2 separate regions of the Homo sapiens genome follow, and region 2 is reported to be linked to region 1. Evidence: microRNA targets listed by miRTarBase, many of them from high-throughput screens and not tested one by one. Region 1 holds a microRNA gene; the other region holds the end of a gene's coding sequence.

Region 1 (7,000 bases):
TACACAAGTAAGTATACCCTTCTTGTGTTCTGGAAATAAGCATGCTTCAGTAATTTGAAGGTCATTCAATATTTTTCGGATTGGTTAATGAAAATAAATCATTTGAAAATGATTTCATTACATTTTGTCTTGAGATTTGAAACCATTTAAAAATTAGTTCCAGTAACTGTCTTCTGTTACCAATTGTATAGGAGATGTTAGAAGCTCTCAAGGCACTTTCAACCTTTTTTGTTGAAAATAGTCTGCGGACTCGAAGAAATTTACGTGGAGATATTGAACGTAAAAGTTTAGCCATCAATGAAGAATTTGTAAGCATTTTCAAGGAAGTGAAGGAGGTATGTAAACTCTTTTCATTTAGCATATATTGAGAACTTACTATTACGCCTGGCTCTGTGCTAAGTATTTTTTTGAATTAGGTTGATATGTTTGCTATTTGTATACTATGCCCAAATAGAAAGCTTAGCTAATTTCTCTTGCTGCATCTAGATCTTTATTTGTATTAATGTGATTTATGAATCTGTGACTTCCACAAATATTAATTCTTAGAAAGTTAACATTGTTCTAGAAGATTATCTTAGGAATTTTAGCTTTTTTAACAAAAAAATTAACATTTCCCTGAATGGCTTTCCAATAGAAATATCCCCTCATTGCATAAACCTCTCTTGGATAACAACTTCTCTACTGGAGATTAATTAGAATTGAGTTACTTTTACTATATCCTAAAATATGAAAATTTCAGATTAAGATCAGTAACTTCAATGTATTAATAATGATTCATCATACTTGAGAGTGTAGTCCACTCACCACAGAGTGAAAATAAATTTTATGTTATTATATCTTTATTATGTAATATTTTATTAGCTGTTTTAATACATTGTAATACTAATATATTTCTATGTGAGTTATGGAAGTGTTGCACATGGTTTCAATGAGTGTTCAATAAAAATAGGTTGTTTTTGACACCTTGGTAGGTTTTTATTGACTGAAGACTAATACTTTGGAAAGGATTTTTTTAAAAAAAATTACATTAGAGATGGACTCTTGCTATGTTGCCTGGGCTGGAGTGTAGTGGCTGTTCCCAGGTATGATCATAGTACACTACAGCATCGAACTCCTGGGCTCACGCAATTCTCCCACCTCAGTTTCCCAAGTAACTGGGACTACAGGTGCCTGCCACCATGCCTGGCTCTTTTAAACATCATTTCCTACTAAAAGGAACAATCTTACCAGTATCAGAAAGCAAAGATGCTATCTGAGACTATTGGATACATGTCAAAAGGACTTTGGAGCTAATGTGAAGAGGATTCTTCTACTGGCCAAACATAAGACTATTTGAACATCAATAAGAGTAACTGCAATTGAATAACACTAGCAATAAAGGGATATTCAGTTTTATAAAGCATTTGCTGTTTTCCTGCGGTCATATTCTCTAAAAGGAATGGACTATTTTCTTTACATTTTTTCTAACACTAGATGTTATTCTTTTTAATCATTTCCAATTTTAAATATGGGATCTCTTGTCATGCCTTGACCAAAAAAATAAAAAATTATGTAACTAAAATAAGGATTTAGCTAACAGAAGAGAATCTTCTTCTTGCTGTATATATGATGTTTGATGTTACTTTTCTTCTTTTCAGGAACTTGAAAGCATAAGCGAAGATGTTCAAGCAATGAGCAACTGTTGTCAAGATATGACAAGTCGCCTACAGGTATTATATAATGGCTAGATTTTGGCATAGTTCCTGATATAAACTTACAAAAATTATTATTGACAAAATGTGTAGATATCTAATCCATAATGCCCTGTAGGAAATTTGGGTATAAATATAATCCTTATTTTTAAAAATTGTAGCTATCTTTGTGTTTCTTTGGATAATGATTTATTAATATTGTTCAATTAACTTTAGAGCATTTATATTTTGGTCTAGCCAGTACAGAGCTAACTACGTAGAATTTTGATAAACCTTTCAATTCCGTAATATTCTAGAAATCTAGGAGTAATGATTTTTTTTAGTAAGAAGCCTTAGGAATAATTTCACACTAAAGCTGTGCCTGATAAAGACCTAGCTTAATTCTGATTTATGCATAACCTTAAAAAATTCTGGGAAAATATGTATACTTTTAGGTCTTTTAATGAAAGCAGTCCTAAACTTATAGTTTGGTAGCAGAATCAGCATTTGACTTAATTAACCTCATTCATCTAATTTTGGAATAGTACATAGAACGGTTTCCTCCTAAGGGCCAATCATGATTATGTCTACTGCCTTCACATTTTAACAGCGAATTTATATCTCTAAGTGTCTCTTGGAACGATTGACATCAACAGTGATTCTAGGAAGAATCATTAATGCATATTCTACAGATTAATCACAGGCTACTTGCATCATCAGTTTGCAGGATGAGTTAATTTCTTGTTTCTCTAAAATTTTATCTTTTCTGGTCTTGTCTAAATTTTGATATTCTTACTAATCTATCAGATATTATTGGCATGTTTATTGTCTCTTAGTCCAATATTTAGATATTTGTTAATTTGACAATATTTAAATAATTATATAATATATACTAATTATTAATGGCCATTTCACATTTTTGGCATATATTTACTTTATTCCTCAGTGGTTGATTTTGTTTGACCCTTCTTTTTCTTTAACTTTATTTCCTTTTCTCCTCTTTTAGCTTCCATGACGTAATGCCTTTTCTCAAATTATACTTTATAAGGTTTTCTATATTGTACTTTTGTGTTTTTTAAATAACATTATGCTTTGTTATATTAGACTACTCAGTTTCTGATCTTTAGTGATAGTATCTCTTATTTTTTAATTTGTATCCTTAATTATGTTTTTATACTTTTCATCATAGAGAGATTTAAATATAAAAAGATCATAGTATTTTTATTTGTGCTATTTTTCAAACAGTTTATAAATATTTTAAATTACAACCAAAGTGTCTCTTTCTGTTTTGTCCTTTGTATTTTTTTTTTTTTTTTTTGAGACAGAGTCTCGCTGTATCCTTAGTGGCGTGATCTCGGCTCATAGCAACTTCCACCTTCTGAGTTCAAACAATTCTGCCTCAGCCTCCCAAGTAGCTAGGATTACAGGCGCCTGACACCATGCCTGGCTGATTTTTGTGTTTTTAGTAGACACAGGATTTCGCCAGGTTGTCCAGGGTGGTCTCGAACTCCTGACCTCAAGTGATTCACCTACCTCGGCCTTCCAAAGTGCTGGGATTACAGACATGAGCCACCATGCCCGGCCAGTCCTTTATATTTTCTTTGCACCCACCTCACATCCTGTTTTTTCTTCTGCAGTGGCATGGGCCTATTTTCTTTCTTTATTCAGATCAACTTTATTGAGGAATAATTTATGAATGGTAATAAACTGCATCCATTCAAAGTGTTCAAATTGATAGGCTTGGCATTTTTATATGCCTGTGAAACAACAACTATAATCAAGATACAGAACATTTTTATCACATATAAAAGATTGCCTCATAGCTTTCTGATTGAATATTTAAAAATATTTAATACTGCCTATTGTTTACATTTGTTTTTGATCCACATATCATTTTTAATAGTAGGAGGTCCATGATTTTGAAAGTTTTGTTTATTCCTTAAAATTTTGCTTAAAGCTAATTTATTTGGATATAGCACTATTGGAATTCTAATAGTATACATTCATAATATCAACTCTAATGTTTTTAAGTTATTCATAAAGAAAAGTGTTTCTTAGAGTATCCTCACTTTCCCTTTTTCTTATAGAATGTTGTTATAATGATTCATTTAATTATTTAATATTTTCTGAAATGCTTTGACTATGGTACCTTTTAGAAATTATTAGAAAACATTTAAAAATGTAATCAGTCATTTTATATATGTTAATATTTATTCCTTTGTGGTTTTCCTTGCATATGTTTAAATAATAAACATGCATTTAGATGCATATGTTTATTATTAACTCAAAAATAATCATCTTTAACATTTAAGATAAATGGAGATTGAGGTTAATCTTCATTAATATTATTAAATATTACTTTGGAATTCTTACCATAGTTTATAAATGAAAAAATCAGGAAATATGCAAAAAAATTAGCAAATTCTTATTATATAACATTGTGCTAAATTATCATATTTCATTGATTAATAAATGGTGTTGATTGTAAGGTGCACCCTCAATAACGACTAGCCTAAAAAGCTAGTAAAGGTTTTTTGATGTTGATTTTGTGAAGCATTCTTTTTTTCAGAAATATTAAAATGTAAACATATCTTTGACTTGAGGGGATACTATATTTTAAAAATTGCACAAGGCAAGACTGTACAAGGGTGGAAATGGAACTTTAGCATTTAAGAAGTATGAGCATTTGAAGAACTTATTGGCAGTCTAATAATTCTAAAAGAATATTTTGGGAGCTATCATGTTGAGCTCCATTCCTTAAAAGTCAGTGAAATGGCTGGGCGTGGTGGCTCACACCTGTAATCTCAGCATTTTGGGAGGCTGAGGCAGAATGATCCTTTGTGACCAGCCTGGGCAACATAGCAAGACCCCATCTCTACCAAAAACTTTTAATAAGTTAGCCAGGCATGGTGGCACATGCCTATAGTCCCAGCTATTCTAGAGGCTTAGGTGGGAGGATTGCTTGGGCCCAGGAGGTCAAGGCTGCAGTGACTCAAGATTGCACCACCATACTCCAGGCTGGGTGACAGAGTGAGACCCTGCCTCTTTAAAAAAAAAAAAAAAAGATAAGGGATATGCAAAATTATCTAGGTTCAAATTGTTTTCTTAAAAAATCTATTTCCTGGGAACATACACTCAAAATAGCTTCATTTGAGGTGGCAATCAGGCTCTGTTATTGACAGCATACCTAGAAAGCAATAAGACAGAGAATTTCCCTCACAGTCTGAAAACTGAGTTTGTAGAGGATTAGGCCTCTAAGAACCCAGAACTGGAGGTGTCTAGGTCTAAGGCAGCTCTAGAAAGAAACCGCAGTAGCAGAAGCTTGACTCTTTATTGTGGTATTCCAACATGAAAATGACCCAGTGTCTTCAGGTGTTTGCTCTGGTATTTTCTCTTTAACAGACTGATTCACCTTCTATTTTATGTGTTTTTCTCCACTTTACTAATGACTTAATTTATGCATCTTTCTGGCTCATTTAATATTTCTTCAAGGCACAGACCTTGTTTCTCTACGTGCCTCATGACTACTTCTCTTCTTATTGTTTATTGCCTTATTTTTGTAAATATTCCCTAGTTCAGATATTTGAGAGAGAATCTCATTGTCTTTTGTTTAAAGCCACTTCATGAATGTTTTCTAATCTTGGATAAGATGCTTTTTTAATTGACTTTCCACTTTTGATCAACTCTGGCTTAGGGAAGGGAGAATTGCTTAGAATGAAAGTTGATTAGGAACAGCCTTGTGTCCTTTAGATGGGGCTAGCTCTGATCCTCACCAAAAACTTATATGGCAGGTAGTTTGTATATTACAACTTTCAAACTTTTACCTCCATCTTATACATTTCTATTGAGCTCCACACTAGCATTTCAGTGACTTAGTTAACAACCCCATGTAAAGGTTGCATGGTATCTCAGTTCAACACGTCCATACCTGAAGTCATGTTCTTCATTCTTAACTTGTTTTTCCAGTGCTTCTGTTGCACTAAAAAGCATCATGAACTATTAAGTTCCTTTGTCAGTATCTGGATACCTTTTTCTTTCTTGTAAGCCTTAGCATTATGTGTATATTAAGAACTGAGTGTGTTCCTCCAGTGGATGAGCCTTGAAACATCTACGTATTTCATTTTATTGTGCTTTTGAGTTCCATAGAGTGATCTCATTTGTTTTAAGTCTAAATTGCAGTAAGTGGTAGTATTTGTTTTCTGAAATATAATAAAATTGGAATTTACTTATATTAGATATGTTTATAATTTTAGGCAGCAAAGGAACAGACTCAAGATTTAATAGTAAAAACCACTAAGCTTCAATCTGAAAGGTAAGTTTTTCTTCATACAACCACCTTTTCAATAATTTGGAGATTGGAGTCAAAGAAAATTATATATAACTCCAAATCAGAATTAAAGCAGAATAATAAAAAACATGGTTCATAAGGTCCTAAACTATTATATTACCCAATAGTAACTTAAGCATAAAGACAGTAGTTTAGGAGCAATAAACTTGACATTGAGGTTGAGAGATTATTCCTTCTTTGGAAGAGAGGTGATGATGTATCGTTATTGTTTGCTGTGGAGTTCAGAAATGATGCTTTTTAAAATGTAAATGTTTTCAGATTTTTAATAGTTTTATTACTTTTTTTTCACAATCATTGTCTTTTATTTTTAAGCTATGATATATCCTCTCTGGTATAATTAAGAGTTAATTGTATAAATTCTCCTTGTAGTTTATACAATAGGTATACTATTGGTTGATTGAATGAATGAGTGAGTGAGTGAATAAAGGTGAGTACAGTCTGGATTTGTGTAATGTGTGGTGTTCAGTATTGCTAAAACTCATAGCAATTATGCTAAAACTCATTAACTGCATCTCTCATGTGTGGAGTAGTATAGGGGGGGAGAAGCATTATATTATGATGCAGTATACTTGTCTCCTGCTCAGTAGTTGGGTACATCACTTAAACCTTTTAGTATTCTAGGTATTTCATCAGTAATATGGAGATATTACCACTTTAACTGCTGATTTTGGGGTAGGTCAGTATACTATAGTATAGACCACAGGTTATCAAACTATGGCCACAGGCCAAATCCAGCTCAACACCTGCTTTTGTAAATGCAGCTTTATTGGAACACAGCTATGGTTGTGTTTACATACTGTCTATGGCTGCTTTTACCCTACTGCAGTAGAGTCGTGTGGTTACAACAGAGACCATATGTGGCCTACAAAGCCTAAAATATGTACTATCAAGATTTTTACAGAAAAAGTCTGTGACTTCTGATCCAACTAGTGTTTTTTTGTAGTTCAGGTCAAGATCAATGGGTTGTAAATTATGATTTATC
Region 2 (7,171 bases), not on the chromosome of region 1:
TTGGGGAACAGTGTCTTGTACATTGTTGGCATTTTATGGCATTTTAAAATATTTAAAATATTTAATTGGTAATTTAAAAAAACTAAATGTTGAAGAGATAAGAGCCAATTAAAACTAAAAAAACTAAGTTAAATCCTAACATGGCATGCAATAAGAAAAATTTAAGAAATCAACAGTAACAAATGTATTTGATTTTATGTAGATAGGATTTCTGCCTGATGCCATTTTCCTCAATTTATGTTTCAGCAAGTTTGAAAAGACTTTGTGTAGTTAACATTAGGTTTGTTGGGTTAGAATACCTAATGGAAAACCACATTCCACCAAGTGAGCTTTTTTGTCACTTGGATAAATACTTCAAGTAGTTGTGAATTAAGTTACTTACACTGGTAAAGTATATTTGTATTTGGAAATTATGAATTTTGGAACATCTATCTTATAGTTTTATGTACTGTAATACTGATAGACGATTATCATCATCATCAATAACATTGATAACATTTATTAAGCATTTACGATGTGCCGGGCACTGTTTGTTCTCATTTAACTCTTTTAAATTGAGGGTAGAAATTGGAGTGCTCTTGAACAGCCTTTTCCAGGAGGCATAGTGACTTCCTTTTCCACATTTCCTTATTTTTGCTGCATTGGTTTGCAGATTAAAAATCTATCCTGGCATCCTTGGAAATTATTTCACTCTTTCAATAGATCTGTCTCCGTTTTTCAAGTCTGTCAGCAACATTTATTGAGCACTTGCTTAAAATTTCTGTTCACCAATTCTAATTTAATTTCCATGGATTGTCCATCTTTTATGAGAACACAAAGGGGAAATTGATAGTGTTTGCATATTCATTTTGTGTGAAAACGTAATGAGAGAAAATCATACCCAGTTTTTTAAATTTGCAAAAGATAAAGTTTCACATTTTTGTCGTCATAGCAGGCAGTTCTTGAGGAAAATATTAAATGCATACCTTAATTACTCATTGTAGGAGAAAGAGCACAATAAAGAACCAGATTCAAGTGTGAGCAAAGAAGTAGATGACAAGGATGCACCAAGGACTGAGGAAAACAAAATACAGCACAATGGGAATTGTCAGCTGAATGAAGAAAACCTCTCTACCAAAACAGAAGCAGTATAGGACCGACAAGTGTACCTCTGCACTCAATGCTGGAATCAAATCCAAAGCTTTTAATTCTCTCAACAAGATGTAAACAGGAAAGAAATCTAGTTGAGCATGAAGATAGGATCTAACAGCTTTTCCAGTTGTTAGATGACTTTGTGGCCATCTTGTTATTGAGTAAGAAAATAAAGCATGGACATCATGAAAATAACAGATGTTACCCAAACTCATCTTCTAAAATCTGTGCATTTCCATGGTGGCTGACACACTTGTCATGTGGTCTGTTAGTGTTTGCCAAGAACCATTGCAAATAAATTGAACATCAAAGATCCAAGTTTGTACTATCCCTAAAGACTGGAGATAAGCATTGGAGGCTCTTTTAAAAAATGCTAGTTACTGAATTTTGTATTGTTTTACTTTTTTTTTTATTTCAATATATACAGTTTGATGATGTGCTTGAAATTGGTGCAAATATATACACACCCTTGTAAGTGCAAAGTATGTAAGAAGTTTTAACATTTACTTCACAGGACTTGTGATTGTGTTAAATTCTCACTATTGTGTTTTCTTTTGCTCACTGTTTAGGACAATTTTTCTTTAAAATAGTTTTGCAGATTAAAATTGCTTAAATAAGTGGATTAAAAAACTGACAATGCATGCTACTGTTCTCTTTCAAAAGGAAGAGCAACCGTGTTGAATACTAATAATGATGAATTAGTATTCAGTGTTTAGAATCATTGGGACTACCCACAAAGTGAGCATTTCTTTTTAAATTTTCTTGACATTTCCAAGCTTATTATGAATAATATTGCAGTGTGTCTTGTCAGCTGTAGGTGGCAAAGGTGCCCTTATAAAAAAGGAAACTGGCTTTTCAAAATGGGCTATGGGAGCACAAGCTGAAGCTTTAGTGCCTTCTACAATGTGGTATACTGTTTTCTAGAATTTTATATGTGCTAGTCATTCTCAATTCATATGGAATCTAGATGGATATTTCATGCATACCCATAGAGAAGTGTGTAAGTGATATGTCAGAAGAGCTTCTTACTGATTTCACCTAAAATGAGAAGGAAGTCCTGTTTTCAAGAATGACATTAGAGTCATGCAGCTTTGGGACCATCAGTTTTATACTGTGATAATTGAAAATGAAACATGTTCTTATTTTCCTTAAATTGAAGAAAACCCTTTAGTTGTCTACATTGGATGGCCTTATTACCTCTCAATCATCTTTTCATAAATGATGTGCAGAAATTGTACTTAAGGACTTAGGAGTATATGGGAGGTTATTGGTTTTATGTTTAAGGATACGTTTACTTGAGTTTAAGATACAGGTCATCCATCATTCTTAGGCTCACTTTTTACAGAAAGTATGCAAATAGTAAAGTGACAGCACTGCTAATGTTTTTCCCCAGTACTATAACTTGTGGTTTCTGAACTCATTATTGTTGTATTTCCAAAAAAGTAATACCTTTTAATTAGTGTATTAAAAGTTAAGTATAATTATTTTAATGCAATCTAATACAATCAGATTACTCAGTTGCCTTACCTCATGGGAAGAGTTACTTTTTTAGATCTAAAAAGCTGAATAGCATGTTAGTTACTTGGTTTCAACTTGAGTTTTCTTTTAATGTTAATAAGATTGAAACTTTAGTATTTAGTGGGGAATGGAAAGAGTTGCCCTTGTTGCAAGTAATGAAGCCTGATTTGATTATGAAGCTGCTTAATCACTCTTCATGTGTTCAGAATTACTGTTTTTTTTGTTTGTTTTTCCTTTTTGTCACTGTGTACATTAAAATTTTGGAAGATGCTTTACTATGTAAAGTATAGATGGTCATTTTAATCATTCAGCCACATACGGTTGGCTGGTAAACAGCTTATTCTGATACAAGAATGCTTGGGTGCATATGGAAAGATTGTGAAAGAGTGTGTCTTGCATCAACAGCTGTCTTATTTATGATATATAAGTAGAAATAGAGCAAATGTTGGAATCTGTTATTTTTAGTACCATGTCTTTAATAAAGCTAAGTATTTTAGAGGAAAATGTTTGTTTATGCATTTCAAAAAAGCATTTTAGTTTTATCCTGCTCATTTTAGTTGTCATAGAGATTGTTGTGACGTGGAGAGTGCATGTTTGTGTGGTGTCTATAAAACAAGTCATTTAAAGTATGAGTGTTTTCTTGTACTCTGGACCTATTACATGTTTCTTTATGTTGGTAATTAACATTTAATTTGGTTCTTGCTGCTAATTATTTTCTCTGCTGATATTTATTAAGCTTTAAAATAATCGTACTATAATCTTGAAACACTGATTTGTAAAAACTAAGAATGAGTAGGAATACAAGAGATCTGGAGGAACAAATCAGATTGTTATTAGGGTTTGACTTTTTTTTTACATGGGCTTATGGAAGCAAGGCATTCTAGGGTCTAGAGGGATGTGTGTGTGTGCTTGTGTGTCCATGTGTGCGCATGCGCACGTGTGTATCTGTTTGAGACATACTTTCTCTGTTCACTTAAAAGAGCTCATGTTTTCATTTGTTTATTCTTTTCTTTCAGGGTATTTTGTTTTTTTCTTTAAGACTTCTTTTTTTAAATCCCAGGTAGATGTTGTCAGATAAACTTGAGGTAAGGCCAAGAAGACAGACATTTTATGCTTCATACTTTCTGTAATTATCTTTTGTAGCTTGATTACATAGAGTACCCTCTCTTCCTTAAGTTGTAGTTGCTATTTATCATTGTAGACAAATTCTGTTGCCTTTCAGCAACGTATGCTGAACTAGTATCATAAGATGGTGCATCAGTTCATAAGCTAGTGCATAAGTTTTGTGTCAAAACTTTTAAATCCTGAAGTTCTGCAGTTATCATCTTAGTTATTTTCTATCTAATTAGCTTATAATTGCAAACACTAGTCAGCTTGTGATCTCTGTGTTTCAAGTTCTTTTCTTCACGAGGTTCAGTACCTGCTATGTTGATCTTTGGCAGTGCCAGAGGCTTAAATTTTGACCTGCTCAATTAAAAATAAACACTGGCGTTTATAATGAAAAGGTTTTTTTGTCGGGGGGGGGGGGGTCAAGAGAATTTATTTTGTGATAGTAATAATTTTCAAGACCTTCAGTCATTCCTATGTCTATGTTGCTATCTTTATTTTAAAACTTAGAACCCTGATCTAACTCCCTTCTCAAGTGAAGATACTGTGTAGATTCAAGAATTATAATGTAGAGTAATAGGCCTTTAAGTTTTTTTTTAATCTGTTAGAAATAAAGAGCATGATTTAATTATTGTTGAATTAACAATTAAAATGAATCCCTTTGGAGGGATGGCATTGAATAACTTATAATTTCAGTGAATCATTTACGTTTTCATTGGAAGACAGTATCTGATTTCAACTGGTGCGTTACGAAGTAGAGCCATTCCCACAAAGTAAATGTGCAGTGCCCATGTTTCTTGTGTTTAAATATTTTTTATTTTCACTACATATATATTATTTTCTCATGTTTATTTACTAATGTAATTTTCACTTAAAATTAGATGTTTATTTTCAAATTTTAAAAGCTAGTGCTCTTAAAAGAGCTAAATTATATTTCTGGAAGCAGGAGTTTAGTATAAATGTAATAAAATTTTAAAATAAAATTGACTTCCCTACTTAATCTTGGGTTTGTGGGTGAGTTTGTTTTTAGTACACTCTTATTGGTGGTTTTGCCTGAAGAGTAATACATTATTATTATTACTTTTCTTTTTGAGACAGGGTCTCACTCTGTCACTCAGGCTGGAGTGCAGTGACACGATCATGGCTCACTGCAATCTTGACCTTTCTCGGCATGGATGATCCTCTCACCTCAGCCTCTTGAATAGCTGGGACCACAGACATGTGCCACCAAGCCCAGTTAATTTTAGAATTTTTTTTGTAGAGACAGGATCTTGCCATGTTGCCTAGACTGGTCTCAAACTCCTGGGCTCAAACAATCTGTCTGCCTCAGCCTTCTAAAGTGCTGAGATTACAGGTGTGAGGTACTGCACCTGGCAATACGTTATTTTAAAAGTAAACGCTAAGCCATTTATGACTTTGGTTATATTCAGTCAGTTGGATTTAGTAACTAATAACTAGCTTTCTTCCATTCTAAGGTACTTTTATAGTTTCTAGCAATTAGTTTGTTACAATTAGCTTATATCAGATATAACAGTTCTTAATATAATGTTTATAAAAGGTTTTAAGTCTGTTGCCTGATTTTTAAATTTATATCTAGTTAACATTTTAATTTTAAAATTGCCAACTTTTGGGAGATTTCACATATTTTACCTCTATATTTTATTTTTCCAGGATTGGTATGGAGGAGTAGTACCTTCTATTCTTGGTTTATTTTTATTTGCTAGACATAATTTCTTAACTACATATGTAAGTATAAATTCATAAAAATCACACTGAAAGAATAGGTTGATTTCAACCATTTTGAGGGTACTGGTAGGTAACACACTGTTGGGGAATAAACTAAAGAATTTCTGATTTCTACAATAGATTTAAGTATGAAATTTGAGTATACTGTGTAGCTGTGTAGATCAACTTAATGCTTAAAAAATTACCTCCTTAATGATTAGATTAATAGAACAGTGTTAGATTATCAAGGGAAGAGTTTGGAATGTAAACATAAACATGCTGCATAGGTGGTGGTTATTTGTGAGTAGGACTACTTTTAAATGGTACTAGTAAAGATTTATCAAACAATGCTGCTATTATGTTGCTATATTTTTAATAAAATGAAAATCTTAAAATCTTGCCACTGTTGAGTAGTAATTTCACCTATTTCTGGAACAGTTATTTGCATATTTACATCTTATTTCTATAACTGAAAGGTGATAATAGGCTTTTCCAGGGTTCAAGATTACTACCAAAAATGGAAGGTTTTGCATACGGGGCAATCTTCGTGTTTTGTGGCAGTTAACTCCAGTCAAGGCTTTTCATATTAAACATTGTGCAGTATCCAAGTAAGTGATAGCTGCTCTCTGAATCTCCCTTCTCCCCAGCCGCCACAAATTCAGCTTCTTGCTAGGATATTTGTACAATGAAAACTATCACTTTGTCTTTTAACAACAGGTGGAATGCCTTCTCCCACTTATAAGAGGTGTAACTCTCCATTTGGTGAATGAGCTGTGTGCTCAGGGTGGTCACTTAGGTAAGACAGCCTATTAGCCTATTAGTCTAAAAAAAAAAATTACCTGTTAGATAAATTTAGAATCCTGCGTGACCTGATTGGCTTAGCTGGCCTAGAGATGTTGAGGCTATGTATATTGATTTATCTACATAGGCCATCTATCTTAGCTGCCTTCTGTGGCTAAAGGCCATGAGCCATTTTGGTTTTCTTTTCTTTTTTTTTGTTTTCTTGGTTTTTTTTTTTTTTTTTTTTTTTTTTTTTTTTTTTTGGAGACAGAATCTCACTCTGTCACCCAGGCTGGAATGCAGTGGTGCTATCTTGGCTCACTGCAACCTCCACCTTCCAGGCTCAAGCGATTCTCGTTCCTCAGCCTCCTGAATAGCTGGAACTACAGGTGCCCGACACCACGCCCAGCTAATTTTTGTATTTTTAGTGGAGATGGGGTTTTACCATGTTGGCCAGTCTGGTCTCAAACTTCTGGCCTCAAGCGAGCCCTCCACCTTGGCCTCCCAAAGTGCTGGGATTACAGATGTGAGCCACCGTGCCCAGCTGCCATTTTGGTTTTCAGATGTGTTAAACTGCATGTGTAGGGGTGGGAGAGCAGAGGCCTTTAAAATGCACCCCTTGCCAGTAGTGGGTTTGTGTGTGTGGCGTTCTCCACAGGACTTCTTGAAAGCAATGCCAGCTTAGAGTAGGAGCTGCTTTGAACAGCAGACTTCTACCAAATCGTAATTACTTAAGGAGTATCATTATAGTAATTTAGTTTTTATAATTATCATTTTCTTACCTTGGGAAGAACATCCTAAGATTTGCAGAAAAGTATCTCTTTTAAAAAGTATACTACCGTATTTAATGTAGGAATAACCACAATTGATGAGAGGTGGTAAATGGAATCAATTATATAGGCATGACCTT

The links. Region 1 holds the annotated microRNA hsa-miR-4305 (CCUAGACACCUCCAGUUC, at 4,936-4,953, opposite strand). A microRNA usually pairs through its seed, bases 2 to 8, with sites in the 3' UTR of a target mRNA and lowers its output. Matches are read on the target gene's strand: a 7mer-m8 pairs with bases 2 to 8, a 7mer-A1 pairs with bases 2 to 7 and ends in A, and an 8mer does both.
Region 2: miRTarBase lists SREK1 as a target of hsa-miR-4305. Seed matches in the 3' UTR shown: 7mer-A1 at 3,535-3,541.

What each region holds. Positions count from the first base shown.
Region 1 is chr13:39,659,173-39,666,172 of GRCh38, forward strand. It overlaps MIR4305 (microRNA 4305), which reads right to left and starts at 4,963; the gene lies at 4,862-4,963. COG6 (component of oligomeric golgi complex 6) reads left to right here. Exons shown (of 19, transcript NM_020751.3): 2 at 192-335; 3 at 1,638-1,709; 4 at 5,924-5,982.
Region 2 is chr5:66,177,736-66,184,906 of GRCh38, forward strand. SREK1 (splicing regulatory glutamic acid and lysine rich protein 1) reads left to right here. Exons shown (of 12, transcript NM_001077199.3): 12 at 984-5,880. The coding sequence ends at 1,133. Among named protein-coding and RNA genes, the nearest start is that of LINC02065, 28 kb to the right of the region's middle.